4 separate regions of the Homo sapiens genome follow, and regions 2, 3 and 4 are each reported to be linked to region 1. Evidence: microRNA targets listed by miRTarBase, many of them from high-throughput screens and not tested one by one. Region 1 holds a microRNA gene; each other region holds the end of a gene's coding sequence.
The links. Region 1 holds the annotated microRNA hsa-miR-586 (UAUGCAUUGUAUUUUUAGGUCC, at 4,490-4,511, shown strand). A microRNA usually pairs through its seed, bases 2 to 8, with sites in the 3' UTR of a target mRNA and lowers its output. Matches are read on the target gene's strand: a 7mer-m8 pairs with bases 2 to 8, a 7mer-A1 pairs with bases 2 to 7 and ends in A, and an 8mer does both.

Region 1 (7,125 bases):
AGATAATGTCTAAATATTGCATGATTTATTTTTAATTTCCAATTATTGGGTATGTCAAAAGAGTTAATAGTATTGCTTTTGATGCCTGATTTTGAGAGCTGGATTTCTTATTTTGGAAGATATTCAAAGTGAAAATAAAATGAAGTCACCTTAATATTATAATGGCAAAATATATGATTTGTACCATTTTAAGAAGTTGCTTGAGTCAGTGAAAAACAATTGAGGTTTCCTAACTTTGGAAATCACAGATGTAAAATGTTGATTAGTCGTGCATATTCTACTACTTTTTAACATGTTAACATAATTTGAAAATGTACATTTTATGGGCTTAACTAGTTGCAAATTAAGCAGAACAATATAAAACTGTTAATATTTTAAAAACTAAGCATAAGGTAGTTTGGTAAATTTTAAGAACACACATGTTTTAGTTGGAACAGATGTGAAAGACATATTATTTTAAAGGAAAATGGGGTCCACAGCTATCTGTTTGGAAATGTCTTTCAATTACAGTGGCGTCCATGACTGTTGGATTAGAATGAAGATTTGGCTGGAAGTTCTCTCTGTCCTATTCTGTGTTTCCTTTTGAATAAGAAACAGCATGTGTGAAGTACATTTACTATAATCCATTCCATACTGGGTAATAAAAATTCTGTGAAGAATGATTATGCATGTTATGAAATTATTCCGATTATGTTTTTTTCCACTTTCAGCTCACTAGTATTTTTAAGTTTATATAAATTTTACAGAGTGTGTTGATATATTAATTTATTTTTAAAAATGGGAATATGGAATAACTAACTCTCATTATAGATAATCGCATTCCATTGGTGGTGTGACTTCCTGTATTTTACCAAATGTGAAACAGTATTCACTGAAAAAGAAATAAAAATTTTCTGAGTGAGCAATAAACCAACCAATTAGAAATGAATTCTTGCATTTTAAGTTGGCAAGTTGCAGTATGAGATTATTTGCATTTACCAATTCATATGTTAAACTCTAGGATTACACTGAACTTTAAAAAATAAGACAGTTGAAAGGGTAACTTTTAGTTCACATTACAAATAAAATGAATGATTATGTTACCCGTATCATTCACTTAAGCTTAAATATTAAAATTTTGGTTAATGAAATGCAAGTTAACATGTATACTTAATTATTATGTAAGTTACTAATCATCAGAAAATATTTTTATGCTTGATTTTAGTAAATTCGTTTATATTGAAATCTTCGTATTGTTCCCATAAGGAAGTAATACATAGGTGCTTATGTGTATATTTGTACACATGACTGTTTAATTCAAATTGACAAGAGAGAAACTTTGATTTTGTTACTTTGAATGAAAATGATTACAAATAAGGTACATTTATTACCAGTATGTAATTTATATAAAGTTTATGGTAGCATCCTCAAATAAGAATATTTGACATATTTGTTCTAGGCATTATGTCAGTGAATACCACAGTTTTCTTCTTTCAAATTAAAAAAAAATCTTATATTACAGTGATGCTTTTCAGGGTAGGCCTAAAGAGAATGGACTTTGGAACCAAACTGTCACTTAATAACTGTGTGACTTCTGGTAAGCTGCTTAACCCCTATGAGCTTCATTTTTTATTGTCTCTAAAGTGAAAGGTGTTCTGAGCATTAAGAAGGTTCAAAAATGTAAAGTGCTTACAAACAGTACTTTGCACATCATAAGTACTATTAGCATATGATATCTGTTAGTTTTTTTACCAGCTGCACCTAAAAAATATGAGGCTTTAGGATCTTGTTAAGTTTGTTAATATTTTTAAAATGTGCATCAAAATGGGATATACTTTAGACATTTTGATCATGGGTTAATTTTTTATTAATGTAATAAGTCATACTTGCTTTCATTCAACATTGAACAATTTAACTTTCATTTAATGGTAACTTACTAGAAATAGACAAAATATATATGGCAGTTATACAAACAATATTTTGTATGATAATACAATTAGAGAACATATAAATACAGCACTCATTATGTTTACATTTTAGGATTTTATTAAACATTTGTAGAATTGAATAAGAAATGTTAACAAATATTTACACTGAGTATTGTTACTAATTAATTTTCAAAATTATAAATGTTTTTCTTTCATCATTTTGCTTTTCATTTTTCTCTATTGCACAGAAGATTTTTATCTGTCGCACAGAATAATGATTCTTACAGTCTCTGATTTGGTTGATGGGGTGTATAACATTTGACTGAGTGAGTCTTTGCAGATGTTTATATGGACGGAAGCTAGATTATAGTATTTCAGATACAAACTGACTGACTTTCCTTGGAACAGAAAAATTCTTGTCAGTTAAGCCACAGACTCACATAAATAAGGCTCTAGACTTAAAGAAACATAATGTTTAACTAATCTTTGAAAAACCTGAGTTCAAAGTCATGTATTGATTGCAAAAAAGGAAAACATTTCTGAATTATGAATGGCTTTTGTACTGCTGTCAGATGAAACATATTCCTTTTAGGGTTAAAGACAGAAAAAAATACCCACAGAGAAACAGAAAATGTGTTATAGGTTTAACAGTGGTTTCAAGTAATGTGAAAAATTATGCTACTGTGAAACTACTGAAGAATTATCATCTGACTATTGAATTACCTACAAATGTCAGTCTTCTATATTTAGTGGGGTTGGTTGCCTGACCATAGTGTAGGAAAAATAGTCTTTTGGATGACGAAGTATTTTTGCTGTATTCTTTATTCTAAAACAAATGACTTTTTTTTTTCACTGTAAGAAGCCCAGGAAATGATCTTAATGGAGTTAAAGAAATATGCAAAAAATACTTTTTTTTATAAAATTACTTAAGGTGCTGCAGAATTGTGGAGATTCATGCTCTAATTGTAATTCCTCAGATGACCAGAGCAGGTCTCAGGTTACATTATTTGTATATAATTTTAAGTTCTGAAGGGTATAATAAAATAGTTAAAAATTAAGCTGAGTTGTTTTTTTCTGGCAAGGAAAAATAGACTTAAATCTTTATATTGGAAGCATTCATTAATCACATATATACATTTAATCCAATGCAACAACAGTATTTTAAAATAGATCTTAAGAAATAGGTGTATTTTATTGTCTTTGAGTTAATACATTTTGAAATATAAAATTGTATGCATTTCTAATTTTAAAGATGTTGTGTCTTTAAAGATGACAACAGCCCTTATAAGCACTAGTAAAAGATGTAATTATTTCTAGTCTTAAGATTTTAAAATGTTATAAAATAGCACAGATATTTGTTAAGTAACAGTATGGGAAATAAAGTGTTGTAATTGGTCTGTTATAAAGCTATTCTGTTGCATTTTTCTATATCCTTAATTACATGATTTAGTTTCATATTATTCAAAGCTTAAAATAACAGATATGATTAGAAGTTAGTACATTTACTTAAAAATAATAGGTAGCTATTTCATGATAATAATTAAGATGTTGGTGTTCCAAATGTAACTTCAGGTAGTGTGACTTAACTCAGAGTAACTCAAGGAAAGATATAGCAGCTTAGTCAAAAACCACTCATGTTACCTGTTATAAATAACCCTGGATCAAACTAATTTTCTTAAAAATTAACTTATATCAAGAAGTTATTTTAACTGTGTCGTTGTTACAGATGAGACATTGATTCATTGTTATATGCTATTCCCAAGTTCTGAAACTTGATTTGTTTTCACAAGTGAAAATTTCAGCAAATTAATGTATTGGGACTGATTCTTTTCTTTTTCTTTGTTTTCTTATGGTTAATTAAGAAAACAAATATTTTAACCTAAAGATATAACAAAGTATTAGGAGGAAGGTTTCTAGTTTTAAATTGCAAGGCTTGTGTGTTCCATAAGCCACCAGTGTTTAATTCAGTATTTCCATCTAAGAACTTACATTATAGCAAATGAGGTAGACATTTATACCTTTTTTTTCTGCTGCTGTTGAATACAAAATGACACTCAGTATTTGTAAAAGTGATCCTGTTTCAAATCAGAAAACTGCATCACTAGAATATGTATTCCTATTTTGAAAAGCTATTTTTAAAATATTTTTTTGTTCCTGCCTGGCTTTCATATTGATTAGACCAGCTCTTAAGAAGATATGATTAAGTATCATTTTAAAGTAAAAATGGGTATTCAAAGCATATAACATTTCAGATAATATCTTGTTCAGCAGACCAAAAGATAAGTTGAGAACTTTGAGAGATTTTTTTATTTCTAGAAATGCAGTGATGGAACATTATCAAGTTTGGGTTATTAAACAGTATTCAGAGTAAGAAGAAATCTGAATGCTTTTGTAAGTTTACAGTCTGAATAGATGCTAATTGCAGATGAGAAATACAGCTTTAAGTTTCTTACGTTGTATGTAATTTGGGTTTTTTTGGTGATTAATATGGCAGTTAGACTCACTTTACACTTTGTAAATTCAAAGAAAAGCAATTATCTAACAAAGTCAAATTCTTATTAAAAGACATGGGGTAAAACCATTATGCATTGTATTTTTAGGTCCCAATACATGTGGGCCCTAAAAATACAATGCATAATGGTTTTTCACTCTTTATCTTCTTATTTTATGTAAATGAAAAAATAGTATTGTCAATTTTTTTCTGCAAATACCACAAAACTTTTGTCTTTCTCATAGTTTACCTTAATTTTGTTACATTGCATATTTCAATTTGAATTCTTATTTTTTAATTAGTTTTAAAAAGCATGTATTATAGAGGATATATGAAGTATTCATCCAACCAAATAGCATAATTTAACTGATCTTTGAAAAATGTTTATTGGTTAAATGCACTTAGTAACAATGTATGTAAAGAAGAAACACCATGTAAAACAGGAGCCACTTAAAAATTCCTTGGTAGATTTATTTTTCTTTCAAATCATTTAAGTTATTAGATCATAGTATGAACTATTGTTCATGAGTTTTTGAGTCATTTATTTTAAAAATTTCATGAAAAAATCTGAAATGATCAAGTGACATTTTCTCTCCATTTACTTGATTATTTGTTCATTCAGTGTTAATTGAACACAATTTTATTGGATGCATCAAAATATTAAAAAATAATCTTTATTCCTATTTCTGATACTTAAAACCAATTTAAATATGTAGTAGCAATTTTAATATTAAAATGAGAAATGAGTATTGAAGAATTATGTCTTAAAACGAAACTTCTTCCTCCACTGTTGAATTTAGCATACTATTTTTTATGTTAACCTTTTGTACCAGGGATTTTTTTTTCTTCTCCTCAGAAGCTGAGGATGTGTTATTTTAGATGTATCTTTACCAAGGAAGAGATGGTAAATCCATGTTGTGGCTTTTTACGTATTTTATAAAGACAGGGTTTTAAAAAAATAATATAGCAACACTGTAAGTCAATCTTCTCCATGTTTTCTTGAATCATTTTTGTATTCTCATCTTTTATCAGTAGTTGTCACACTTTTTATGGAACCAAATGCCTAATAATTGAAACACATACACATGATCTTTGAGAAATCATGAAAATACAATTCTTGTGCTTAGTGATATCCAGAAAGCATAATATTCTGAAAAAAGTTATTCCCTTCAGTCAATTTAAAATTAAACACTCTAATGCAAAAGGATATCTAAGGTGAAAGATGTTTGTGTAATGCTAAACATAACCAAAGAAACTGTGGTTTTAGCAAAGGTACTATTGCTCTATTTTATCAAGTGCCAGAAATTGCATAATGAAAGTCTTTCAGTTAGTGAAAATATAAGTATAAAAACACAAAAATACCACCCAGCTGGTAGAGATCTTCCTAATTTTTACCTGATTGTATTTCTGAAGAAATATGGCAGGGCTGTCGTAAATTTTCAACATGAACTGCATTTTTGTTGCCAATTTCCATATCCTTTAAAAAGTGCTGAAGCGTGCATTTGCTATTTATGTTTGCAGTAGACTGAGTACACTTTTACTATTTGTGGTTTTAGAAATTGGAAACAACCAAACAGTGGTGCTATGGTCTAAAAAAATAAATTTTAAACAGCTGCGGGACAGTATTTTTAGAATGGTAGGAGTACTTCTAAAGCAATATATCTGCCCCCTACCCCCTTTTAAAATGATTGAATATTGTCACAGATATAAAGTCAGATATCTATTGTGTATTATCTATGGTAGATTGGATAAATTAAACTAAAAGTATATTTTGATAGATGTGAAATATATTTTTAGCGTGCTAGTGTCAGCTCACTTTTCTAACCTGTAAATATTTGTTACTATATGCCAGCTACTGGCATATACACTTCATAGGCGTTGAATCTTCTCCTTCCTTGGGTAAGAATGATCATTATTCCCATCTTACAAATAAGAAAACTGATGTAAGTAACTTGCCCGGGATCAGAAAGTTTGTAACTACCGACCTCAGTGAGATTCAAACTAAAGACTCATGAATCCAATTGTTTTTCACCTTATGTTTGGGGCAGATACTATTAAAAGAGGAAAAGAAATAATATGTACCCTAGTTTTAACTTCAAGTATTTTTCTGCTGATGTTACTGAAATATGAACAAATATAAAAATCTAGATAGCAATTCTTCATTGCATTTAAATCTATTGAAACTACTAAGTCAAAAACAATCAGAAATGAAAAACAAATCGATCATATCACAATCAAAATAATAACCTTAATTTGATATGACAGACTTTTAACTCCTGAAAATAAATTCCCTTTCTTAATATGACTACTGTGTTCTAAAAGTTTGTTACATCTTCCCAGTGCTTTGCAATTCTTTTGACATTATGGCACAAGTGAAAAATGATAATATTCATAGGGCCACTGGATATAGAAGCACAAGGTTGTTCTTGACAGCAGACAATTCAGGGGTTCCTAAATGCCTCTGGTCCCACCAGTCAGGCATTCCATAGGCTGAGAGCATTAAAACCTACACACCTGTACCTAGTTGGTGGCTTTTGTTCCTAAGGGCATGGGTTGGAAAGCTCTGATCATTGCTCTCTTTTTCTGTAAGATAACAAACACAATTTCCTGTGACTTTTCTCTGTTCCAGTTATTATGAAACCATTGTATAATATATCATAGCATCACTTGGCCATTATTTTGTATTAAGCTAGCCTCATTTCACGTCCCTTCTTTCTTTTCCATTAT
Region 2 (7,125 bases), not on the chromosome of region 1:
CAAAAAAAATGCCCTTGAGGTGACAAATTTCAGTTAGTTGGAGAGAGCCACTTCCTAAGTAATTATTCACCATTATTATTCTGTTTAGTAACACTCACGTGCTGCCTCTGGTTTACCTTGCTTCAATTCCTCCCTTGCGAATTCTTATCTACTGGGTCTTCCCCTTTCCCCCAGCCATTCTACTTCTCTACTTTCCAAAGGAGGATGACCAACTCCCCTGGTTTGCCCAGAGCTTTTCCAGTTTCAGCACTGAAAGTCTTGCACGCTAGAAAATCCCTGAGTCCCAGGCAAATCAGGACAGTTGGACACCCAGTTCCTAAGCCAGGCACTCTGATATTCTTATTCTACTTGTGCTTTGCAGGTACTACCTTGTAATTAGATATTTCTCTTTTTATAAAATCATTATAACAACCCTCAGATAGTGACTAATCATTAGGTCACTTAGCTCCATGGTCTGAAATATCCTGAAGAAACACTGAGGTCCTGAAATAAGCTGATCACGGACTTGGTTCTTTACTTCATTTAAAGGACATAGAGCTAGCCATCCTTTATTCATTTATGCATTTATTCACTCACTCAAATTTGGGCAAACAAATACGATTCATTTAATCAGTTTTGCTAGCTTGAAAATGAATATTTCTAGATGGAAATTTGTTTTTTTCTTTGCAAGTATGACCTGGGAAGCTGCTGCTTCTGAAGGCTAGAGCTTGGAGGTCTTGCCTCACTTGTCACTCAAAAGACAGTCCAAGCAAAAGGACTCTGAAATTCCACCCCTGCCTTTTCTTTTTGTATACGTATTTAATAAAATAAAAAATAGAGGCCTGTATAGCATGCAACTCACTGCCTGGCGTTACCATAACCGGTCTGGCTTAATTATCTCAATTGCCCAGAGGATTGTGTTACACCTTTGGCTGCCTACCATGGGCAGAAAGCAAAAGTGTGGATGTGGTCGGGTTCCTGCAGCTTGGTTAGTAACAGAACTTTGTGGTTTCGCCTGGAGACAGACCTAAACAATTCCTTGTTAATTGAAATTAATCTTAAGTTTGAAATTTACCCAAATCCCACAACCAGTGTTTGTAATTACTCTACTCCTTGTAAGTTGTTCTCTCTCACCAAACATTAAATGAGGAATTTAGGAATGAGTTATGAACGAGGCAAGAATTCTGCACTAACGTATGCTGTGCAAACAAAAAGGATGTATTTTCATTACCGAAAAGGATAAAAACTGAAAAGCAGAAAGGTCTTAAATGGTGAAGCTTTTACCAAGAATATGTACAAAAAGAAAGCGCATAGAGTAGTCACAAAAAGCACAGCCTAGTATTGAATGGCCTCAGTTTGAATCTCAGCACTAATAATTCCCATATGTACTTGGACAAGGTGCTTAACCTCTCTGAGCCTTAGTTTCTTCATTTCTTAAATGAGGATAATAATACAGCCTATTCCATAGACTTGCTGTTAAGACTAAATTATTTAGTACTTAGAAAGGACTTAGAGTCATATTTGAAACATAAATAATAATTGCCATATTAGTTAAAGAAAAAAGAGCAAGGTGCAACCCATATTTTAGAATGCAAATTTTCTCCGTATTTCCAACCTTGAGAAACATTTATTTATTTCAAATTTGCCAGAGAAAGTGGCGGGACTACATATCCTTGGTAGCTTTGTGACCTGAAATGATATATAGTTTAATGGATAAAACTAGGTTTAGATGCAGGTAAAACCAGAATCCAAATACTACCTCACTGATTCATTAGCTTTAAAATTCATACTCAGTTTCTTCACCCAAAACAGGGGTCAACACACTACTGGCCATAAGCCAAATCTAGCCCACTGGCTGTAGATGTTAGTAAAATTGTTTTGAAACACAGCCATACCATTTGTTTTCATATTGTCTGTAACTGCTTTCACATTACAAGGCTGAATTTGCATAGTTGAGACAAAGACCCTCTGGTTCATAAAGCCAAAAAATACTTACTGCCTGGCCCTTTACAGAACTTATTTGCCAAGTCTTAGTCTATAATACAAAATAATAATATCCTGATTTGGTTTCTGTGGGAATGAGATAAAAATAATATGTAATGCAAGAACTCTACACATAGTTGAGGCTCGATAAAGAGCAACTACACCTTATCACCCATTAAAGAGAGAAGCAAAATCTAAACTTGATAATATTTTTCTTAGTTTTTTTTTTTTTTTGGCTTGTTTATTGGTCTTTTGTATTCCCTTTCTACCTAGCCTATTCTATCCAAAAACAAAATATGAGCTTGACTTCCTCTAACTTGAATTAAACTAATCTGTCACCCCACTGCACCTGTCTGTTGAGGCCATTTCTATGGCTCTATGCATCTAACCTATCAGGGTTTATGTTCCATTGTTTGGGAACATTTGCTTTATGGTGTTTCTAGAGTAATCATACGGGAAGCCCAAAGATTCTTCCAAGAATTTGTTTTCAATTTTTAATTTTTTTATTTAGAAATAATAAAATAAGACATAATATATAAAAATATGTACAATCCATGGTTTGTGCAGTACAATAGGAAGACTTTAGATACAAAAAGACAGCAAATGGGAAAATAATAACTATCACGATTGTCAATGGCTAGGATTGTTCAACTTGCCAGAGCCCAGAGCGGAAACCCAAAATTACCAGAAAAGAGATTCTACTTTGCTGAGGGTTGGGGATGGGCAGGTAGCTATGCCACACTTTTTTTTTTCCCACCTTAACATTATTAGACACAGAGTGAAAAAGAACTCACTCTACTTCTCAGGACAAGCTTTTGCTTTTACTGAGTGGTTTATTATAAAATATGAAGTGACATTTATTAATTGTAAGGGAAATATGATTTACGGGACAGAACTCATCAAATAAACAGAGTTGAGATAGGAGTGTACTGGTAAGAAAGGAAGTAAAGAGAAGAAAGAATGCATTAACAGAATAAAAACAAAGTAAAACAAACTTTTCTAGGAATTTGGAAATGACAACAGTGCCATAGTGACATCCTTAAAATGTCTGATTCAAGTATACTCTTAGAGGGATAGAAAACTACTCCTTTCTCAATAATCAAAATAGAGTTCACTTTGTCTACATTTTGTTTAAAAATAGGATAACCAGGAATCTATGGCTCCTCCCAAAAATATAGTGCCCTTCCAGATATGGGCAAAAATTCTTTAAAAGGGAATAAATCCGAAGTAAATCCAACAGGGAATCTGCTTGCAATAGAGAAGCAACACACATCTGGGAATCAACCCCAGATATTCATGGTGAGTCCCCTCCGTCTGCATTCTAATGACATGTGTACATTAATTAAGGAGACCCAGTCAATAAGGACAAATATTTTGAAGGTAAAATGCAGCAATCAATGTCGTGCATTACCTGTGTCTTGGCTCTTGACAAAAAAAAAAAAAAAAAAAAAAAAAAAAAAAAAATTGCCATTTAAAGCTTGTAACTGTTAAAACGCTAATAACTAGAAAAAGGTTTCAAATGAACAGTCCATGCTGAAATAAATAACAGAAGAACATAGCAATACGAACCTTATAAGGCTGGTATATATTTGCTAAAACCATGCTAACCGGTAGCATATAGGTACTAGCTCTCAGAAATTACTGCACTGAAATTATACTTTCTATGGCAATTATTTTTCTTTACAGACCTCTATTTACATTTGGCTTTAAATATGAAAATATCTGATAAACTTTATAAAATGTACACTTTAAAAACATAGCTTCTGCAAAATTTTCTTGAAAAAACAAACCTGTGCACCAGAAATTTTATATTTTTTTCTCTTTTTCAGAAATAAGTTGAAAGATTTCCCTCCCTCTTTCTTGCCCCCCCCATACCCACCCCCTTTCAAATTTCTCAAGTCTTTTTAAGTGGCAGCACTGTGTGTTTAGGGGGAGCCTCTTTTGTGGTCACCCCCATTCTCCACTGTATCTTCATTTAATTTACATATCACTGAATACTCTTTGGTTTGATTATTTTCCTTTGCAAAACATCATAATAGCAGCAGCTGAAGCCCTCAATATCCTCTCACTGTCAAGAACCAAATTGTTGCCTCTTCTGTAAGTTTTCTTTACAACTCAATCCCCAATTCCTCCAACTCTTTAAACACCTTCCCAAACCTGCCTTTACATTTGGATCTAAAACAACCACTTGCTTAACATCTCTTTCTTTGTTTCATTGAAAATAACACCTCAGTTTCCCAAGCCATCAAATCTGAAGGCTGAAAACAGCAAAAATTGTCATAGTTTTGCAGGCACGGCATTCAGATATGGCTGTTCAAGAACCAGAGACCATCACAAACATCAGTTTACAAAATACATGATTCTAGAACAAGCTGTTTTTTAATGGCATACAGAGATATAATACCATAAGAGAGTTGATTTTGAGACTCCAATTAAAAAGAAAAGTCAGTAATCCCAGAATTCACAAATAGGGAACTTTAAATTAAAAAAAAAAAAAAAAAGAGTTCCATTATTGAGCTTCAGTGAGAAAAAAAAAATTATGTTTCTAGCAAGGCAGTCAGCCAGGCAGGGGAGGCTTCTGGAAAACAATGTGTCCTTCCTTAGTAACCTGCTCTAGGGCTCCACAGGAGAAAATGCTTAGCTCACATTCAGTCATAAGTATGCACACAGAAAAGGGAAATAGCTGTTTTAGACCATTATCTCCTTTACTTGTGATTATGTTATATTTTTATGGCTCTCATTGACCCTAAAATACTGAGACATTTTCATTACTATCCTCTGCCATAAAAAAGGCAAGTTTCCTCTCCTTCCTAAGCACTTGATCTGAAGTGCTGCATCAAACTGGCTTGTCCACACCTCCCTGTTTCCCTGCTTTGGCATTTGCCGCCCTATCTGACACTGTAGGACTCAATCCAGACAGACTGATCAGAAGAGCAAGTGTGGAGGCCAGGTGTGGCATCTTCCCTAAGGTGAAGGTGGGCTGGTGATGTCCTGACAGTCCAGGCAATAAATTCAGCAGCAAGGGTTTAAACCCATTTATCTTTCATGCTGGATGGCTCAGTTTTGAGAATGCCAGGATGCCAAGGAGGTCCTATGAAGATCTTGTCTTATGAAATGAATTTTGGAATGTGCAAAAGGAAAAGCCCAGAAAAATATAAGAGTACATCACCATCTCGCACACTACACATGAGCCTGGCCAGCACTGCCTAGCAGGAAAGGATAGACGTCGGTATTGTGTGTGTGTGCCCCTTTCTTCTTCTTCCTCTTAAAATAAAAAAGTTACATGAAAGGACAAAATTTTTAAAAGCACTACACTGACTAGACTCGGTGAGTATGATGCTCTATTTTCTGAATAAGGTGCAAAATGAACCGGCGGTTCAAGGTCTTGCTGAGGTTCAAAGTTATTGTCTCTTGATTTCAAGGCAGCCCATGGGGCTTTGTTTTCTTTTAAGTGTAAGCTCCACTGTGCAAAAATATGCATTATCTTTGGTATTTATTTTAGGTAGTTTAACTTAAAATTTGAGATAACCCATTAACATCATGGAGGAAAAGAAAAAAACAACAACCCAGAGGCTACCATTCGGCTAGTGTTACATAATGCCCTTATGTAACAAAGAGAGAGAGAAAAAAAATCAATTCTAGCAAACGAATTACTGGCCTCAAAAAATCAGGCTCTTGTTTTGGCAGTTAATAGCCAAATACTTGCCACTTTGAAGCGCATCATGAGCTTTCAATAAAATTCAACACTGACTTTAAAATTACACAAAAGGAAAACTACACTGCAACAAAAATACACATTTGTGTTCATGTAGTTAGCAGCTTTTCAAAAATTAAGGCAGAGTCTTGCCTTTGTTATGCCATTAAAAACATCCTTGTTCCCTAAAGAGAAGCATTCTGGATAAATCAAATACCCAACCAAGGCTTGCCTGCAAGTTCAAGTTTTGGAAAAACACAAAACAAAACATAAAAACCCATAACTTATTCTACAACATCTATGTGCCATCGGGTCACATGGAGACATGGTTAGTGCTTTATGCTAATCATGGAGCTTACAGTCTTTCTTTGAAACCATTGTGCTTGCCTCAGTCCCTTGTGGCCGCTTGCTTGACCCATCTTGACCAGTACCGTCATCTGTATAACTGTTTTGGGCCTCTGACCAACAGACCGTGTTGTAAAGTAACTATTCCAGAGAAGGAATCAGTCAGTCATATCTCCGACTCTCGCCGTAAGGGCCTGGGCTCTAGAGGTACACTTGCCTGGTTGTGAAGGTCTATGTCAGGGGGCGTGTCCGTACTAGTGCTTTCTGGAACTCCATTTTCACTGTCGTCTTCCTCTTTGCTTGTGAGGGCAACTTCATTTTCATAGCAAAATGAATTTGCATTTGAGAGGATATATTTCTTTTCTGCTAAGTCTCTGGCACTACAAAGGGGAGTGTTGGGGACTTCGTAAGTTTTGTGGAACCTGGAATAGTCCACTTTGTAGTAGTGCTTCTCTTCAAAGAGCACAGGCTCATAGCGGTGGCCCCACAGGATTTCATTTGCTAGATAAGAGCTACGGCACTGTGTCGTCATGGCAGTGGCTTCCACCATGCCTTCCAGTATGACCACGATTTCAAAGTCTGCGTTGTCAATGTCCTGTTTACTCAAATCATATAAAGGACTGTCTTCATCTATTTCATGGACTATAGTGATTGGGGACACCAGAAATATACGATCGATTCCACTGTCAAACCCAACATTGATGTCTATTTGATCCAGAGGGATATACTCCCCTTCAGAAGTAATTCTGGATTTGAGGAGCTGTGCTCGAACATGAGCTTCCACCAAGTGGCTTTTCCGAAGATTGCCCACTCGCCACATCAAACACAGCTTGCCGTCTCTCATGGCAATCACGGCATTGTGACTGAAGACAAGAGTCTCGTTTCTCTTCTTTGGCTTTGCCATCTTGGCCATGACTGCGCCAATGATGAAAGCATCGATGATGCAGCCCACGATTGACTGGAACACCACCATGAAAACAGCAATTGGGCATTCATCCGTGACACATCTGAAACCATAGCCTATGGTTGTCTGGGTCTCAATGGAGAAGAGGAAGGCAGCCGTGAAGCTGTTGACCTCGGACACACAAGCTTTGCCCTCTTTGGATGCATCCAGGTCCCCATGG
Region 3 (7,125 bases), not on the chromosome of region 1:
TTCTTCCCCAGCCCCTACAACCCTTCTACCCCCTACTGAAAAATCCCATCATCAGCCCAGTGGGCCTTTATTCCCCTCCTCTCTCATACCTTCGATTACCACGTGATGTCCATCAGCTGAGCCTCTAGGTCACAGGTCTTTCATTGTAGAAAGGGATCAGCTGTGAACATTCTGGTGCTCATAGGAGGCACGTGATAAATGGAGGGCTCTCCTTTCATCGTATCCTATCTTCATCCTCTCTCCTCCTCTTCCCAGGACCAGCTGCAGGCCCAGGACTTTAGCAAGTTCCAGCCGCTGAAGAGCAAGCTGCTGGAGGTAGTGGACGACATGCTGGCCCATGACATTGCCCAGCTCATGGTGCTAGTGCGCCAGGAGGAGTCACAGCGGCCCATCCAGATGGTGAAGGGCGGAGCGTTCGAGGGCACCCTGCACGGCCCCTTTGGGCATGGCTATGGGGAGGGGGCTGGAGAAGGTATCGATGATGCTGAGTGGGTGGTGGCCAGGGACAAGCCCATGTACGACGAGATCTTCTACACCCTGTCACCGGTGGATGGCAAGATCACAGGCGCTAATGCCAAGAAGGAGATGGTGCGCTCCAAGCTGCCCAACAGTGTGCTGGGCAAGATCTGGAAGCTGGCCGACATTGACAAGGATGGCATGCTGGACGACGACGAGTTTGCACTGGCCAACCACCTCATCAAAGTCAAGCTGGAGGGGCACGAGCTGCCCAACGAGCTGCCTGCCCACCTCCTGCCCCCGTCCAAGAGGAAAGTTGCCGAGTGATGGGGTGGGGGGACATTCAGACGGGCAGTGTTAGAGGAGGAGATGGGAGCGGTGACTACACACACACACACACACACACACACACACACAAACATGCACACACACATATGCATATCTTGACATTGCTCTGTAGGTGAGAGAGGACCATGACGCCCATGTTTGCAGCTGATACTTGTTTGGGCACACCTCCAAGTTCTCGGGATTAGAAGGACAAGAGCACTCCCAGGCCCCAGAGTCTAAGCCTAAGTCTCTATCGCTCTTCCCCTCTCCTCGGCCACTCCCCAGATACCAGACCTGAGGCAATTCACTTGCCAGCACAGATGGCCAACCCACCTCCAGATTCCCCAGTGCTTCCACACCCGGGCTCTGAGCAAATGGAAAAGACTTTTCATTTAGTAGACAATTCACTTCTTTTTCTGTGCTTCCCCTATCTGCTTTGGCTTCCTAATAAGAAATCCATTCAAGAGCTAGGAGATCTGAGGGCAGGCGGGCAGCTGCAGGGAGGAGAGGTGAGAAAGGAAGCGTCTTCTAGAGACATTGGCCCAGGAGCTCTGTTCTTTCCTAATCTAAGCCTCTGTCTTCTTCGGCAAACCTTGCTTTGAACTCTGCCAGTATTTCATTTTAAAGAATCCCAGAGCGGGAGAGAGAAGAGAAAAAAATTGATAAGAGTGAGGAAATTGTCCTGTAGTCTATTGAAAACCAGTCAAGGTGGTTTTAGTTCATAGATTTTGTTAGATGTTCTTTCCACCTGGCCTATGATGTTTAGATGTTCATACTTGACTCACATTTACCCAGCCCCTCCTGCGTACCAGGAGCTGTGTTAGGCACTTTATATACATTATTCTATGTGGCCCTCACTGATGCCCCAGGGAAGTATGCATTAGCCTTCCCATTTTGCAGTTGAGGAGGCTGAGTAGCCTCAGAAGGGTTTAGGCGACCTTCTGAAACTCACAGAAGTCACGTGATGGAGAGAGGATTCAAAGCCAGGGCCTCAGACCCTCACACACTTGTCTGTGCTATGATGTATGCAGGATCCCAGCATTGATACCCAATGACAAACTATGGAGAACAAGCAAAGTATGCAGGCCCCCTGCAGCCTCCCAGGACAGGCTGGCAAGGGAGGAGGGCCGGCCAGCATTTGGTGGCCCATCAGTCTGGCCATCTGTCACGTCACAGAAGCAAACCGTGCCTTCTGGCTCTGCGCCCCATATTCCCAGCATCATAGACATCCAACAGCACCAGCAGGAGAGTGGGCTAGCCTGCTGGATGCTGTTCGTGCCTGTCCCTGCTCTGCCTCCCACCCAGTTGCCTGAATCATCCCAGCTCAGATGCAGCCACTGTCTCTTGTCAAGTGGGACCTCATACTATTCTCAGAAGGCTAACTTGAGAGGTTTGGGGCCTTGTTCCCCAGAGGGTCCCCAGGGACTCTGCAGTGTCCTTGGCAAATCCCCACTGTACTCAATGCCCTACATTCTCTTCTGTGGTCTCTCCCCTGGCTTGCTTCATGGCCACTGAACCAATCACTTTGTATGCTATGCTCCTACTGTGATGGAAAACAAAATGAGTATAACTTATTTTATATCCATATTCAGACTATATAGAGAATATTCTATGCATCTATGACGTGCTTACTACTGCAGTGCATTTGTCATTAGTCTTCATGTTAATACAGTACATTTATTCTTTGGTACCTGCCTGGCCACAGAGCATCATTCAATGGAGGCTGAGGGAGAAGGGCTGGGTTCTTACTTGGAGTTCCTGGTGAAATCTTTGGCTGGAAAGGGCTCACTGGGGCCACCCAATGGCCAGCATCCACAACCAGCTTCCCAGTGGGCTGGAGTTTGTCTAGGCTCAGTGACCAACCCAGGCACAGCTGGTGGAGCCACCGCTCCCTGCTCCTCTGGAGTGAAGATGTTCCCTAAGCCCCTGGGCTTCCTTCTGCAAATACACATTTCTCTTTCACATGAAATGAAGGGCAGACAAAGGCCAGGCAAAGAGGTCTCACCTGCTCTGGAGAAAACCCTTGAGTGCCGAGTGCAGGTTAGGGACCATTTCTCAACTCCACACCTTTCTTCAAGCTGAAGGAGAAATGGGAAGGAAATAGCAGAGGTAGGTGAAGTTCCTGTCTTTTTATTTTATAGGAAAGGGAGATGTCTGTTATCCCCTTTCTTCACTGCCACTGGACACACATGCCACTTTCCTGCCCTTCTACATATGCTGCCTCTCTTCCCTCTCTCCATCTTGAAGTCTCCACCCAGGAGAGACCTGTGAGGTGTGGGAATTCCATGTTTGCACAGCTCCCATCTCCCTGGAAAGAGGAACTGATGTTTGAGGGGACAGATGTGGGTCACTTTCCCTGGCAGTGCCCTCTAGCCTTGCTGCCTTGGCTTTCTGACCCCTTCCAGGCTTCAGGGGCCTGGGAGATCTCATGCCTCAGCCCAGGAAACATTTAATAGGGAAAGCAGAGACATGTCATGTCAGCCCCACAGACAAGAATTTCTAGAGCACTTGTCCTGTTGTTCCTTGCCCCGACATTACTCAGTCTGGGCCATGGAATCCATCCAATAAACACAGCAACACCCTATGCTACTGACCAAGCAAAGCTTGCCCCTGGTACCAAAGAGCTAAATCATGACCAAAGTGTGACATGAATGTAACTGAAATGCGGGTTAGTTGCTCAATGTATGCAAAGTCCCACGGACAAGAGTAAAGTCTGATACCAATAAAGTGAATGTATTCCAAAGCTAGCTTGGAGGAGGGGCACACAACGTCCTGCCTTTCAATGTGCCGCTTCCCCTTTGGAGCAGAAAGCAGGCACTTTTATAAGGTAAGGGAGCAAGTGAGCAAGGGTCCGCCTGATAGCATGGTGCCTTATCTACTGGACAGTTGAGTCGGGCCTTCCTGGGCAAAAATAAATTTTAAAAGTGGCCAAGTAGGCATACTTTAGATATAACCTCCTAGTGAATGAAAGTCCTGAGGCAGCCCCTGGAGGGTGGGAGTTCCAAGGCAACCCCTGGAGGTGAAAGCTCAAGGAGGGCATGTTTTGGTCTGCAAATTGGCAGTCAATTCTGGAGGACTATTTTGGAGCAGAGAGATGAACTTGCCCTGTAGGGAATGTCTAGTGAAGGGGAGATGAAAGCTTATATTTGCATTTCCCTTTTTTTGAGACAGTCTCACTCTGTCGCACAGGCTGGAGTGTAGTGGCATGATCCCAGCTCACTGCCACCTCTGCCTCCCAGGTTCAAGCCATTCTTGTGCCTCAGCCTCCCAAGTAGCTGGGACTACAGGTACTCCACCACCACGCCTGGCTAATTTTTTTTTTTTTTTTTTACTTTTAGTGAAAACAGGGTTTCACCATGTTGGCCAGGCTGGTCTTGAATTTCTGACCTCAAGTGATCTGTCCACCTCAGCCTCCCAAAGTGCTGGGATTACAGGCATAGGCGAGAGCCACTGCGCCAGGCCTATATTTGCATTTCTAAAGGGCTACCTAGGAAGTTGGGAATCCAGGAAATGGAAAAAAGAAGAGAGGAAGAAAAAAACAGCTCTTAGAAAACTGGGGTGCTCATTTACATGAATATTTCCAGATGACACCACTGAACCATAGCAGGGCATGGGCCTTGGTTTGCAGAGTGATGAGTGGTTGCCCTGAGTCATCCCCACTTCCATTTGGTTCCAAAACCTGTATTTATGAGTTAACTCATCAGAATCTGCTGAATGACCTGAAGAGAATAGGCTTGTTTATTCTTCCTATGTGATGCTGTCTGGAGTCTATACATCCTCAATCCTTTATTTAATTTCTCCATCCATTCATCCATCGATCTTTTTTATATTCAAAAGATGCTGAGCACCTCTTACAGAAAACATCCTGAGGGAGAATATAGAGATTCATTCCTTGAGTCATTCAAAAACACTCAATATAAAGTCTACCTGAGTGTAGAGACAATTCTATATGGATCAAAGAGCTCACAGCCTAGTAGAGGGGATGAGGCACTTATGCAAACACTGATAATACGGTGAGGGAACATGAAAGGGGGATGCTCAAGAAAGTCAGAAATGGCTTCAAACTGGGGAGGAGGTGGTCAGAGAAAGCCTGTAGCAGGATGGGCACTGGAACTGAGAAACCGTCTGGGGCCAACCTCTTGGGCCTGTTTTCTTCCTTCCTGATCTAAGGAAGACAGGCAGAATTTTTACATAAAACACAACACAGAGCATTCTCAGCCCACTAAATCATGACAGACTGAGAACCACTGAAGTATTTGTGGAAAAGCATGATTAGAATTTTGCCTCTGGGGACTGTGCTGTTTTTTCATAGGCCATTTTCAAGTGAAAATTGTATCAGTATCTTTAAAGTTGAAATGTTAAGTGCCTGGAGGGAAAGAAAAATGGTGATGGAAGAATGTCAGTTATCCCGGCCGAGTGATGAGTACACTAGGGGCACGTCACGGGCACAGACTCCTCATTAGTGCTGTTTACCACAGGTCGGTTCTCCTGTCCCCGGGTTAATGGGAGGACTTTGGTTTTCTCCCTTTGAAGTAAGCGAGCTGTGTGACTTGCTTTGGCTCATGAAGTAGGTGTGTAAGCAACATGTCTCTTCCTCGCAGAGACAAATGTACAATTTGCCACATTCTACTTTTCCTGCCTCTCCAGGAATGTGTGTGGGAGTGAGTGTGAAAATGGAGCCTAAGTCCTGGGTCATGCTAAAACCCCTTCCCGACCTACACTGGACAGATGCCATGAATAAGACATAAACTCCATCATTTTACTGTTAAACCATGGATAGTCATGGGGCTGTTACCTGACATAGCCTATACCATCATGACCAGAGACCTGGTAAGTCTGTCAATAGTTTAGCCCATGAAGCAAGTGAAAAGCAAAGAAAGTTTCTTGGAAACCAAGTTCCTGCCTTCCTAAGAACTGAGGTTGGCCAGGTGCAGTGGCTCATGCCTGTAATCCCAGCACTTTGGGAGGCCGAGGTGGGTGGATCACGAGGTCAGGAGTTCAAGACCAGCCTGGCCAATATGGTGAAACCCCATCTCTACTAAAAATACAAAAATTAGCCGAGCATGGTGGTGCGTGCCTGTAGTCCCAGCTCCTCATGAGGCTGAGGCAGAATAATCGCTTGAACCTGGGAGGCGGAGGCTGCAGTGAGGCGAGATTACATCACTGCACTCCAGCCTGGGCGATAGAGTGAAACTCCGTCTCAAAGAAAAAAAAAAAAAAAAAAGAACTGAGGTCACTGGAAGCTGAAGGGATGGGTGATTCACATAAAGCCCTTCAGTGTCTGAGTTGTATTCTGCCATATCCTAGCTCCACCCTTCAGTGTGACTTTTTAAGTTAGAGAACTTCCCACTTACAGTGTCAAATGAGAACAGGACTTGCCTTCTCTCTTCAGGAATGTAGGTACTGGGGATTGACTGGGTATTTGTCTGCCTAGGGTTACACAGGGAGATATCCAGGTTGGAAAGAGTAAAACTACAATTCCCAGACTCCCTTGCAGCCAGGTTCAGGATGTGATTTTAGGTCCCGCCAACCAGATATACTTGTGGGAGACTGTGCTGTAGTAGATCATGCCAGAGGTGGACCCAGCAGCTATACAGCTGTAACAGCAGCTCTCTGGCTTTGCAGCTTCCTATACTTGCTCAAGAAGCTGGAAGTCTTGTTTGTGAGGTTGGAGAAACAATGGCAACACTGGTAGCACCGTAAGCAACCATCTGCCACTTTGTGTTTGCCCACCTACCTATGGTGCCTGAGCACTGCTGCCATGTACAGATTGCACAGAGGGGACCTAGGCTGCAGCAGGAGAGGCTTCATGGAGGGTGTGTGTGTGTGTGTGTTTGTGCATCTCTATGTGTGTTTGGGTCAGGTTGGGACACTACACAGAGGTGGTTTTTTGCAAGATAATTGAAGATAGGAGAGGACATGACAGCGTTTCTCAGAAAGAATGCTGCGGGGGAATTTTCAAAGCAAGAATCCCTTCCTAAGAATTAATTGGGATGAATATGTGCATGTTAGACAGTTGAGGCTATAAAATAAGGACATGTCAGAAGTAGCAGTTCTATGTCCTTCCCTTAGAATTTCATGAGGTGTAGGGTACCCTTCCCCACCCCAGGGCGCATCACTGAAGTGTAGTGGTGGCAGCCATGGCCTGAGGGCAGGTCAGCACAGAAAAACACCAACTCCACAGAGAGAGTCTGGCGGGAGCAGGTGCATGGGCATCTGGTGACCTGAGTTCCTCCAACAGAACAAGCCATGGGGCCTCTTTGTGCCTCTGTTTATTCTTTCCCCAAGTGGGGTCACTTCAGACATTTGGAGATATGAGGCAACAAGGAGATGGGAAAGTTC
Region 4 (7,125 bases), not on the chromosome of region 1:
GAAAATCTCCGCACTCGCGGGGTACTCTGCCCACCGGAGTCCCGGCCTCCCTCTGGCCAACAACCGGCGCCTTCAGTGCTCTGGGAATTCCCACCCCGAGGCTACCTGTTTTCCTGTGAGATCCCTGCACCTTGGACCACAGGCTTGGGCAGAGAGAAGCAAAATGGGGTAGAAAGCGAAGGGCGAGTGGGGTAACAAGTGGAGAGGAGAAGAGATGTCCATTACAGAGCAAATAATTTTATCTACTAGCTGAGAAGTGCTGAGATCTGAAACCGCACCGGGTAAACAAAAGGAAACAACTTTGGGAGGGGAAAAAAGGTTGGGGGGAGGTGGTGGCACACAGAAGATTAAGAAGAAAGGGAAAAGGTAGGGAAGCGCGCCAGCCAAGGTTCTGAAGTCACTTTTCTTGGCATCAGCCAATATGAGCTACCCAAACGTACAGCTCTGCTTGTCCTGGGCAAGAGCGCCCTCATGTTGCTGCTCCCTGCGCAGCGCCCGGCTTCACCCTCTGCGGGGATCGCCGCCGCAATGTCCCGAGAGCGCTTCTCCTCTCCTCCTCCGCCACCGCGCAGCCAGGGCGGCCCCAACTCAGCAGCTGAAGTTACTTCTCCACACCGGTTCAAAACCCGAGAAAACAACGCTGCCAGGTCCCTGCCACAACGACTTCAAGTCCCGCCATTATGCCACCTCTCCATCTTCACCCCGGAGTCCCTGAGGCGCCGGGAAAAGCTAATTAATAGGACACCGCGACGAGAGTCCCAAATTCGCTTCGGGCCGAGCCAACCTGTGTCTGGCGCGTGCTCTCAGCCACTCTGGGACAGAGAGGCTCTCGAGCGTACTACCGACGTCTCCTAAGTGTGCATTAAGAATCAATTATTTGCCTGAGATTTCCAAAGCCAGGAACTGGGATATTCCCAGCAGGGACAAAGTCAAGCCCAGAACGGTGTTCATTTCCCTAGTCTTTCGAAGAGACAGAAGAGAAGACTCCCACACGCACCCAGTGCCTCACCCGACCCGGAGCAGCCCGGCTAAATCCGACCGGGACCCTGGTGTGACCCAGGCCAAGGAGCTGGGGGCGGAGGGCCAGCTCTGGGGAAGGTTGGCTATGTTAGTGTGCAAATAGAGAAGGGCGATCCAAAGAAGAACTTTAGAGAGAAGCAGGTTCTTGGCTCTGGAGCAAAGAGCTTTAACTGAAATAAGGATAGCTAATAAACCTGTCTTTGAGCGTTAAGAACGTCCCGGAAGTTCCTGTAGCAACCATAAGACTCAGAAATCATATTTCCACGAAATGAATTAATTTACACTTTAGGACCTATTTCAGTCTCCCACTACCCCTTCTCCGTATAATTTTTTCTCGTTTTCTCTCCATGTTCCTTTGCCGTGTCTACATCCTTTTGACCTGGGGATTCACCGTGATTTCTGTCAACGTGGAAAAAAATTATGCATCCTTTCAGCTACGTCTGTTGGTAGCGAGCCTGCTAACATTTTCTAAGAAAAGATGAACACTTAAGGCCAGGACCCCAAAGTCAGGCGTTAAAACTCAGTCCAAAGCAGTCAGTTACACATATTCCCTACCCTACCCCTTCCCCTCTGAAAAGCACTTTCACTTACGGATCTTGCTGTAAGAGCCATTCCAGTCCTGATATCCTTTTCCTCGGCATCCTTCGGACAACCTCAGGCAGAGCCTTAGGTGGTGGGGAAAAACAAAAACAAAACACAGTAGAAATCGGGAGGGAGACAAGAGGCACAAAACATAACAATACATCATCTATTTGCCAGCCTGGAGCCCCCTTGGCCTACATCCTCAGGATAAGGTCCCTAGAACTGACCGCTAGGGTGGGGAATGGGTGCCTTTGGGAGCCAAAATCTGAGGTGGGTTATTTTAACTGCTAGTGATTGAGGGGAAAGGGCCCTGAAGGGAGAATAGAAAAGGGGAATGATTGGTATAGAGAAAAGAAATCTTAAAAAAAAAAAAAAAATGCACGCAAAAGAAAATCTAGCATGAAGTACTAACTGGGAAAGATCTCTAGCACCTTTTAACTCTTACAGGTAGGTAGCTCTTAGGAAGAATGCAGACGTGTGTGCCCAAAAGAGAGAATCTAGATGACCTCTATTCTTTCCATATCTCCAGGATCTGGACTTAAGTAGAAAAATAAAGAGGGGAGAATTTTAATTCAAGTTTCACCTACCCTGCTTGTTGGAATGGCTGCGCAGATTTTCATGCTGGAGAGTTCCATCTGTCTGGCAGAAGCTGAAGTGGTGTTGGGGGCAGGTTATCTGGTGAAGTAGGAATGTACAGGAACCCCGCCCTCTAGGCACAGTTACACAACCCCAGCAACCCATCTCAGCCAGTTCTAAAACCTCTAATGATCTTCACCTTCACCCTTTGTTAGTCTAATTCTCCAACAGGCTTTTAGTCTCAAACACAACCAACCACTTTAGCTGTTCATAAAATTAATTTCTCAAAACCAAAATTTTCCCAGTGCATGCAAATTCCTCAACAATGTTGTAGAAAATACACTTTTTAAAAAACTACACTTCTATAGACTTCTAAATATATTGAATTTATCCACGTATTTGGGTGAAATATGCACCAACTTAAATATATATTAAAATCAATACACTATGAGACTAAATTTTTGCCTCTCTGCCTTTGATTTTATGCAAGTCACATAAACTACATGAAGGCTTCCATGACCATAAGGATATTTGTATTAAACCTTGTTAGTTCTAGACTTCATGTTCACTTGGTTCCCAATTTTGTAACAGGCTGAAGAAACATATTTGAAATAATACTTTAACTCCTCTAGTTCAATTACATCATTTTCTCAGTGTTTTACATATTAATATTTTTTGTTAACTTTACAACAGACAAATTCAAGTAAAATACTTTAAACCTGGAAATAAACTTTAATTTGGGATTTCAAGTTTTAAGTTGTGATCAGTTTCAGTTCCAAAATTTCACAAAGGACAACCTTCATCTTATTAAAAACAATTATAATATGAAAGAAAATAATCCTCAAAAGTTTTGAAGTGTATTTCTGACATAAACTAATTTTAACGGTCAAAGTTGGAGACAACAAATAACACAACATTACAACCCGTTCGATGCAAAAATGTATTATATGCCATGCCAGACTGTCATGTGTTTTTTGAGAAGATAAGTTGAGGGATGATAAGATAGATCAAGGGAAATGAGATGTTCATATTGGGCTTCAGGAAGCCTTTACAAAGTTCTCTCTCCATATATCCACCTTCGTGTCTAGTACACCTAACAAACTTCTAGTCATATCCATTATATGTAATTTGGACATGGGTCCAAGCAGAACTCCCACTCCAATACTTCGTTTCTATGAATTCAAAGAAATCAGTTTTACTCTTGACTTCAAAGTATGATGTTTGCCATTAAAATTCTATTTATCTGTCACCCAAATAAACACTTATAAATACAAATAAGTATACTTATTTAATGTGGCCAAAAAAAATACTCATGCAGGAAAACTTTCTTCTATATCTATACCCCTTTACCTTAGCACAAGAGTTCAACTTTCTTTTTAACGTTTGGTAAGCAAAATTCTATGTTTCCCCTGTGATAATACATTCTTATTCCACAAATAAAATCCATGGCAAAAGCAAACAATAAATCATCACCTTTTTTTCAGCTTGGACACATGTCTCTCTTTGAGCTATTTTGGTTCAAAATGTGTAATGGGGATTTCCTTTGCATAAAACCATTCACTTGGACTTTATTACTATTTTTAATATCAGCCATAAATTTGACTTTTAACACAATAATTTTTTGTGAAATATTTTTATGCTTCATTCTGAAGAACTTAAATTTCAAGAAAATTTGGACCTCTGGTGAAACTGTTTTTATACTAAGAAAATAAAATCATGTCTAATTGCTTAAAGGAGATAATTAAACTAGCTGTCTTGGCTTATTTTTGTCCATTCCCCATTTGTGTATATTTGGTTCCAGCTCTTTTAATTTTCCTGGCCCTTATATATTTTTCTTAGGCCTTTCTCTCTCTCTATCATTCACCTTATGTCTCTCTCTCTCATGCATTCTTTTTGGTGGTAATTATTTTTTCACCATAAAGATCCTCTCTCTCTCTCTTTCCCTCTCTCCACTCCACAGTCCACCCCCTTCTATTTTCCAATATTAAGTATTCAGCATTTCAGTTTCAAATCTATTCCAGTAAGCTTGCTTCTCCCTTAGGCTTTTTTTTTTTTTCCTCCCCCTGAGCAACTGTCTAAGTGTTTGCTGATAACATCTTAGGGCCAGATTATTTTTCACTGGGCCCATTGTAAGAAGTAACCAGCTTATTCCAATACTGCAGAACACATTTCAGACTATACAATTGTAACAAATGAACAACTTGTCCTCCACAGATTCACCACAGGATCCAATTAGTTACTAAACCTTTTACTAAGGTTTTCTAATTATTTTCTGCAATTATAGCGATTGGGCTGCCTGAAACAATTCAAAAAATGTTTTCATTTTGTCTCACATATATACGCATATACAGTATATGCATACATATGCATATGGAAAGTTAAAATTATGACTAAACAAAAGGAACAAATCTCTAGATTGAATTACACAGACATTTAAAAGGGAATCAAATAAATACCTCTACATTGTAAAAATTAAAAAAAGAGGCATTTTACTTCTGAATATCTAGAATTCTAAATTGTTATAATTTTAAAATAAAATATAAACATTGATCTGCAAGTCATTAAACAGGTGATCACTTCAGCAAAATCTATATTGCAACTTCAGCACATCTTTATTAGAACTCTTTCATTGTGGGTAAACAGCCACAAAAATAAATGCTGACTTAGAAAGTATAAATACAAATATTTAAACAAAAATGTTTGCAGCATTCATAGCGCAAATTGTACCTGAACTGAAGGGCTCTGTGTGTCTATATATATTACATATGTGTGCATTATAGTCACTTCTATCTAACCATATACATATATTTATTTATAATTTGCCAAGCTCTATTAACAATATACCTGAAACAAAATATATAAATGGCATTCTATTAATGGATTTGGAAATAAACACAGGGTAAAGAGCTATGCACAGAAAATTAAATTATATCTCTTTTTGCTGTATATCCACAGAAACTTACAGGTATCAGCTGAAAAGCCTATACTTTGTTTAAAGCTAGTGTTTATTAAATAGGCTGCTCCTTGTAAAATTTGTTCACAAAGGGAAAAATACTATTTTCATTTTTAGAGTCAGTTCAAATTAAAGGAGCAGTTTAAATTTTAGTTTGGCTGAAAAAGCCTTTGAATTCCCTATAAGTTGATTGGTCTTTAAAAAATTAGCTCTACTTAATAAAAGAGACAAAAGTATCAAGATATATATGAATTTAGCCTATTTTTTATTTCTGTGTGTTCATAGTAAACATTTTTGTAAGTGACAAACACGGGCATATGACCACAGTATCACAATCAAGAAATTTTAAGACAACATTAACAATCACTCAAATTTATGCGGCATTTGCGCAACACAGGTTACATATTTGCAAGGTTTACCTATAAGTACAATAGGTATTAACATTTCACTACATTTAGAAAAAATAAAAGTGACCTGTTAGTGACCACATACATCAAAATATACACAACACAAACTGAAGGCAATCGTTAATTTTGTCCCCTTCTGATTCAATTGAATGGGCAGTGTTGCCAACTGAAACAACTTTCCTTTTTGTTTGTTTTAATACTTAGTATACCAAGTGCATTTTCTAGAACCCAATCTTTGGTCTAAAAGTAAACAAAAGAAAAAAAAACAGTTCTTTAAAGAAAAGGACAAAACAATAAATGGCCAAAATAATTTCTTGGGCACCTTTACTACGAATGCTTTTTAAATACAAATTACAGTTTAACATTTTAAAATTCTCCCCATAATTTAGGTTGTTCTCAAGGTCTGCGTCCACCATATAGTTCCATGATAACTTATAATACTGCACACATGGAAATCTGGCGGCTCTTAGAGATAGACTTGTCAGGTTTGAATGAAATGGCAAAGCAGTCACTATTTAGATACACATTCTACTATAATTTGACTTCCAAACCTTATATTCTACAATGTATTCTCCCCACATTGCACCTCGCTGACACTCCACACCTTGTTAGAATAATAAACAACCCTAGAGACTGAACAAACGTACAGAAATGGGAGGGGGGGGCTTAATAAAAAATACCTGGACTTATTTTTTTAATTATCATTTACAATGCAAATGTGTGTAAAACGTTCACTTACAGTCTGGTCCCAGGGATGTTAATGTATTAAAGGGTTGGAAGAAGACCCCTGATTTTGATGTGTGAAATAATCAGACAGTCCCCCAGACAGTCCCGTCGTAAAACTTGGCAAAGAGGGTCTTAAAGACTCACAGGGCAGGGTCGAGGGGGCCTGCGGCGACGTGGAGGAGGACGCGGCCCTGGCGCTCATGGACGTGCTGCTCTGCGAAGTCATTGACGGGTGCGGGACGTGGGGGAAAAAGTAACTGGTCTGGCCCGCGAGCAGGTTGACGGAGCAGGGGTTGAGGGAGTAGGTCCCAGAGCAGGGCACCGACAGGCCGCAGGGCACCGAGGCGGCTAGCGCGGCGGCCGTGAGGTGGTGCGTGGCGTACGGGATCTCCCCGTTGACCAGCCGGTCCACGCTCAGGCCGTTGGCGGTGGAGAAGGAGTGGTTGTTGCCCAGCGAGTTCTGAGTCAACACGGAGCTGTAGGGCATGGGGTGGCTGGGGTAGGCCGACGTGGTGCCGTTGTAACTCAAAGTGCTGCTGGCGCGGGGGTGGTGCAGGGACAGGAAGGGCGACATGGGCCAGTAGAGGGAGCCGGCGCGGTCCATGAAGGTGAGGCCGGTGGAGGTGAGGCGCGCACCGCGCTTGAAGGCCAGCTTGGCCCGCGAGGTGGTGGAGCGGCGCCGCAGCTTGCCCGTGGTGCCGCCGATGAACACGTCGTCGCTCGACGGGTCCAGCATCCAGTAGTTGCCCTTGCCCGGGTCGTCGTAGTGGCGCGGCACCTTCACGAAGCACTTGTTGAGGGACAGATTGTGGCGGATGGAGTTCTGCCAGCCCTGCTTGTTCTCGCGGTAGTAAGGGAAGT

Region 2: miRTarBase lists KCNJ2 as a target of hsa-miR-586. Seed matches in the 3' UTR shown: 8mer at 5,437-5,444 and 7mer-m8 at 2,923-2,929.
Region 3: the mRNA of EHD3 is a reported target of hsa-miR-586. Seed matches in the 3' UTR shown: 7mer-A1 at 891-897.
Region 4: the mRNA of FOXG1 is a reported target of hsa-miR-586. The part of its 3' UTR that is shown has no 7-base or 8-base seed match.

The regions. Positions count from the first base shown.
Region 1 is chr6:45,195,120-45,202,244 of GRCh38, reverse strand. MIR586 (microRNA 586) reads left to right here and starts at 4,475; the gene lies at 4,475-4,571. All of the region lies in intron 2 of SUPT3H (SPT3 homolog, SAGA and STAGA complex component), which reads left to right.
Region 2 is chr17:70,175,366-70,182,490 of GRCh38, reverse strand. It overlaps KCNJ2 (potassium inwardly rectifying channel subfamily J member 2), which reads right to left. Exons shown (of 2, transcript NM_000891.3): 2 at 2,447-7,125. The coding sequence ends at 6,168. Among named protein-coding and RNA genes, the nearest start is that of KCNJ2, 9.4 kb to the right of the region's middle.
Region 3 is chr2:31,265,922-31,273,046 of GRCh38, forward strand. It overlaps EHD3 (EH domain containing 3), which reads left to right. Exons shown (of 6, transcript NM_014600.3): 6 at 256-3,530. The coding sequence ends at 783. It overlaps LOC124905983 (a long non-coding RNA gene), which reads right to left and starts at 19. Exons shown (of 4, transcript XR_007086270.1): 1 at 1-19.
Region 4 is chr14:28,767,920-28,775,044 of GRCh38, reverse strand. FOXG1 (forkhead box G1) reads right to left here. Exons shown (of 1, transcript NM_005249.5): 1 at 4,768-7,125. The coding sequence ends at 6,296. LINC01551 (long intergenic non-protein coding RNA 1551) reads right to left here and starts at 2,341. Exons shown (of 3, transcript NR_026731.1): 1 at 2,190-2,341; 2 at 1,612-1,685. RefSeq lists an enhancer at 255-754.